Linked DNA regions of Homo sapiens: region 1 is linked to region 2. The links come from fine-mapping of genetic effects on gene expression. Tissue or cell type: whole blood. Region 2 holds a variant in brackets; the other region holds the start of a gene. All regions are shown on one strand. Distances are from middle to middle.

Evidence for each region. PIP is the estimated chance that this variant, and not a neighbour inherited with it, causes the effect.
Region 1: it holds the start of LCN10, and the variant in region 2 is fine-mapped to the expression of LCN10 in whole blood (TOPMed, PIP 0.91).

Annotation. Positions count from the first base shown.
Region 1 is chr9:136,741,705-136,744,319 of GRCh38, forward strand. LCN10 (lipocalin 10) reads right to left here and starts at 1,236. Exons shown (of 6, transcript NM_001001712.3): 1 at 1,083-1,236; 2 at 177-316. The coding sequence starts at 1,199. LCN6 (lipocalin 6) reads right to left here. Exons shown (of 7, transcript NM_198946.3): 7 at 2,313-2,438. RefSeq lists a silencer at 641-740.
Region 2 is chr9:136,766,669-136,769,420 of GRCh38, forward strand. It overlaps LOC107987143 (a long non-coding RNA gene), which reads right to left. Exons shown (of 3, transcript XR_001746981.2): 2 at 1,093-1,481; 3 at 1-1,006. Among named protein-coding and RNA genes, the nearest start is that of LCN15, 3.5 kb to the left of the region's middle. The variant C/G (reference allele first, on the strand shown) is at 1,480.

The DNA of each region.
Region 1 (2,615 bases), 25 kb before region 2:
ATGTGGGGTCCCAGGGGCTGCAGGTGGCTTCCTCTGAGTTTAGGGGGAGGAAGTGGGGGGACGGTTCTTGTGGAACTTCCAGACAGACAGGCTCCTCCCAGACTCCTTTCCAGCCCCGAGGCAGCTCCCTCCTCCTGGAAGGGGAGACCCTTGCCTGGGGGGCGCTGCCCACTCACCGTCTGAAGGCGAGGAGCACGCGGAGCTGGCCCACTTTGTTCACCTTTACCACGGACGCCCCCAGCTTCCTCTTGTCCCTGGCCGGCAAGAATCCCTGGGCATCAGTGGCAGTGGCCAGAATGTACCAGAACCCTGAAAACTGCGCAGCGGATGTGTGGGCGGGGACAGGAGCTGCCACCGGGGGCTGTCCCCACCCCCGAGGTTCCCAGCTAGAGAACCCAGGAGACAAATGACCCTTCTGTGAGCCGGAGTCCCAGCTCCGCCCAGGTGCCGCCTCGGTCCCGGCCACTCAAGCCCTGGCCACTGGAGCAGGGCTGCAGAGAAGCAGGTGCCCGGCTGGTCAGGGACCCCAGGCAGCAAAGGGCTGGGCTGTGGGCGCCAGCAGGTGGGAGGCCCCCTACCTCAGAGGCCCCGGCTCCTTCCCACATGGCCTCCTGGGGGCTGGGTACTGCTCGGCCACTTCCCTTCCTGCCGGCCCCCGGCCCCCAACTCTGCCTGCTGCCAACCCTAGCGCCCTGGGCACCGCCGTGCCAATGAGTGCTGCTCCCACGGCTCACTCAGCAGGTGCCCGGGCCCTCCCGCTACAGAATATGCCCCGCTTGCTCCACACCCACTCTGCACTCTGGGCGTCTCCCGACCTCCTCGGCCACAGCTCTCTGGGCCCCTCCACCCTGGCCCTCCCTGACCCCCCTGGGCCCCCGAACCCCCTCGAGGCTCCCTGCCTTTGCCCTGCAACTTGCGGGGCCCCTGTGCTGGAGGCTGCAGTGGGAGAGGCCAGGTGGGCAGCGCCCGTGCCTGGAACTGCTGGTAGCCCTGCTCCTGGGCGGCTGCCGGGAGACTGTGCAGGAGCCTGCTCCAGCTCCAGAGCCGGCGCCCGGCTCAGGGACCAGTGGCACATGGCTCACCTTGTTCCAGTTGAGGGCGTGGGACTCCCTGGGGTACCACTCCTGCACCTGGGACCCTGCAGCCAGCACTAGCACCAGCACCAGCACCAGCGCCAGCACCAGCAGCCCCTGCCTCATCTTCACCCTCCTCCCTCAGCCGCCAAGGCCAGTGTTTAAACCTCTCTGGAGCCGCCAGCCTGTGTCGGGAGAGGAGGGAGGGGAGGGAGCGGAGGGAGGCAACAGGTGTGGCCTTGGGCTCTGCTACCCTCTCCCCGCCCAGGGACCACCCCCAGACACTCCAGGGAAGCCGGCACTGCCCCACCTGGTGGTCACTGCTGGCCTGGGCTGCCCTGGCAGACAGAGGCCCCTCTGAGGCCCCAGGACCCTCCTGCCCTCAGTGCCCGGCCTGGGGTCACTGTGTGTGCCCCTGAGACTCATTAAGCCCTGGCCCTCATCCTAGACCTCCCAGGTGACAGGCAAAGGGCTGGTCGTGGCCCTTCTGGGGCAGATGTGGACATGGTGAGCTCTGCGCGGCAGCCACACACACAGCCCCCACCACCTTCTTGAGGGCCTGGCACCAAGCACCTGAGCAGGTGCCGAAGGGCGGGCCGGGGCTGTGTGCCCGTGCCCATGAATGTGTGTGTGTGCATGTGTGGGTGTGTGCTCACATGTGCATGCGTGTGCATGCCCAGCCTTGCAGGTCAAGGCATCTGTGTGCACCTCGCCTCACTCCAGCATGAGCCTCACACAGTCCCCAGCCCCCCATCCAGCCCCGAGACCCCCATGGCCTGTGCTTCTCCCAGGACGGCAGGCAGCGCAGCCCCCCACACCCATCAGAACACAGGAGGACCTGCAGGCTCAGGTGTCTGGGGTCCCTGCCCCTGCCCAGGCAAGAGACACAACCCCAGCCCAGAGAAGCCTGAGCCTGGGGAGTCAGGGGCTGCTCTGAGCCCCACCAGCCACCTCTCTCTTGTCCTGGGCAGTCCTTGGAGCCTCTGGCACCCCAGCTGCGGTCCTGGTGGAGCTCACTGCTGGCTTCCTCCCAGGCTGTGTCCTCTGACCAGCCCCCGCCTCTGAGCCCGGGCCTGAGTTTGGGTGTCTGAAGACCCAGAGGGGCTCTGGCAAGGGACTGGGTTGGGCACGCGTCTTCTTTGCAGCTGGCTCTATGGTTCTGTGGCTTGGCCCTTGGTGACGACCCCCGCCATCCTCCCCGCAATTCCCCGGCTGGCCCCCAGTCAAAAGCATCCTTGGTTTGCTGTGGAATCGCTTTATTCTGAGCTGGTGCTGGGCCCCGGGAGCCGCTGAGCGAGGTGGGTGGACACTGGCCGAGGTCACAGGACCCTGTGGGCGCCATCCCTACTGGGGACGCAGCACTCACTGAAAACCAAGAGGAGTGTGAGGGGGCCCAGCCCACCATGGAGGCTCCTCCACACCCTCAGCTGCCTTAGAGACAGTGGAGCCATGAACCCCGTGGGCTTGGGCAGAGGGTCCTCCCACCCACTGTGCGTAGGGTGGCCTCCCCCACCCCCTTCCCCCAAGAGAGCCCAGGGTGAG
Region 2 (2,752 bases):
ATCTAGCAGTAGCGTCAGTGTCAAGGGAAAACACCTGCTACTTAGCAGACAGGGAAAGGGAGTCTCCCTTTCCCCGGGGGAGCTTAGAGAGGACTCTACTCCTCCACCTCCTGTGGAGGGCCTGACATCAGTCAGACCTGCCCGCAGTTATCCAGAGGCCTAACCGTCTCCCTGTGATGCTGTGCTTCAGTGGTCACGCTCGTAGTCCGCCTTCATGTTCCATCCTGTACACCTGGCTCTGCCTTCTAGATAGCAGTAGTCAATTAGTGAAAGTACTAAAAGTCTCTGATATGCAGAAATAATGATGTAAGCTGTCTCTCTCTCTCTCTCTCCGCCTTGGCTGCCAAACAGGGAAGGGCCCCCCATCCGGTGGACACGTGACTCACGTCACCTTACCTATCATTGGAGATGACTCACACTCTTTACCCTGTCCCTTTTGCTTTGTATCCAATAAATATCAGCACAGCCAGACATTCGGGGCCACTACCGGTCTCCACGTCTTGGTGGTAGTGGTCCCCAGGCCCAGCTGTCTTTTCTTTTATGTCTTTTTCTTGTGTCCTTATTTCTATGCCCTCTCATCTCAGCACACAGGGAGAAACTCACCAACCCTGTGGGGCTGGTCCCTACAGAAAACATCTACAAAACGCATACACCTGAGACGAGACTGAAATCCAGCATCCATGAGGAACTCCCAAGACTGAGTAATAAGAAAACAAGCCACTCCATTAAAAATAAAAAGAGGCCAGGTGTGGCATCTCACGCCTGTGATCCTCGCATTTTGGGAGGCCGAGGCGGGTGGATCACCTGAGGTCAGGAGTTCGAGACCAGCCTGGCCAACATGGTGAAACCCTATCTCTTCTCAAAATACAAAAATTAGCCGGGCATGGTGGCGGGCGCCTGTAGTCCCAGCTACTCGGGAGGCTGAGGCAGGAGAATCGCTTGAACCCAAAGTGAGGTGGGTGGGGGGAGGTTGCAGTGAGCCAAGATCGCGCCGTTGCACTCCAACCTAAGTGAAAGAGCAAAATTCCGTCTCAAAATATATATATAAACAAATAAAAATAAAAAGGCAAGAGATCTGAAAAGATACTCCACCAAAGAAAACATCCGGATGGGAGATGAGAACACGCTCAGCATCAGTCCATGGGAAGATGCAACCTGGAAGCTTTTTGAGACCCCTCTGTGCACCTCGCAGACCATGGAAGGCGTTCCACAGAAACAGGCTCAATCCCTAGAGCCTGTGAGGGCTGGGAGTCAGCAGAGCTATCACCCTCTGCGGGAAGAACAAGACGGGACCACACTGCAAAACTTCCTGGCAGACTCTCATGCAGTGAAACATTCCACCAACCTACCTACTTATGGAGGTCTCCACCCGGGAGAAATGAAAACTACGTTTACAGCGAACTTGAGCACTTCTGCATGAGCAGCACGTGATGGACACTCAGCAGTAAAAGGAACGAAGGTGGCTGAATCCCAGGTGCA[C/G]CCTGCAGAGGGACAGAAGCCAGGTGGAAAAGGCTGCGATCTGCGACTCCTTTTATACGACGTTCTAGGACAGGTGAGCCCACAGGGCAGGGGGCTTCCCAGTGGCTCTGAGGGCTGAGGTGCGGGCAGTGATTGACCGCAAGGGACCTCGAGGAAGCTTTGTGGGCACCAGAGCTGCTGTGTCGCACTTGCAGTGGTTCCATGAACATTTGCATTTGTCTAAACTCACACAACTGTGCCCTCAAAGGGGCGAATGCAGCTGTGCATACATCATACCTCAACTTTTATTTATTTGTGGTTTTTCTTCGTTTTCTTTTCTTTTTTTCTTTTTTCTTTTTTTTCTTTTTTTTTTTTTTTTTTTTTTTTTTTTTTGAGACGGAGTCTCGCTCTGTCGCCCCAGGCGGGACTGCGGACTGCAGTGGCGCAATCTCGGCTCACTGCAAGCTCCACCTCCTGGGTTCACGCCATTCTCCCACCTCAGCCTCCGGAGTAGCTGGGACCACAGGCGTCCACCACCATGCTCGGATAATTCTTTGTATTTTTAGTAGAGACAGGGTTTCACCATGTTAGCCAGGGTGGTCTCGATCTCCTGACCTTGTGATCCACCTGCCTCAGCCTCCCAGAGTGCTGGGATTACAGGCATGAGCCACCGTGCCTGGCCTTGTTTTGTTTTTTAAGACGGGGTCTCACTCTGTCACTCAGGCTGGAGTGCAGTGGTGCAATCTCAGCTCACTGCAATCTCCACCTCCCGGGTTCAAGCGATTCTCCTGCCTCAGCCTCCCATGTAGCTGGGATAACAGTAGCCACCATGCCCGTCTAATTTTTTTTGCATTTTTAGTAGAGACAGGATTTCACCATATTGGTCAGGCTGGTCTCAAACTCCTGACCTCAGGTGATCTGCCCTCCTTGGCCTCCCAAAGTGCCGGGATTACAGGCGTGAGCCACTGCGCCTTGCCTTTTTTTCGTTTTTGACATAGTGAACTGGGGTCCTTTCTCAGAGCTCAGTCCCCTCCCACCCCAACCCCCATGCACGGCCCCCCCCCGCCACCCTGCCACCCCCCCATGCACTGCCCCCCCCGCCACCCCCCCATGCACTGCCCCCCCCGCCACCCCGCCACCCCTCCATGCACTGCCCCCCCGCCACCCCGCCACCCCTCCATGCACTGCCCCCCGCCACCCCCCCATGCACTGCCCCCCCGCCACCCCGCCACCCCTCCATGCACTGCCCCCCGCCACCACCCCATGCACTGCCCCCCCCGCCACCCCGCCACCC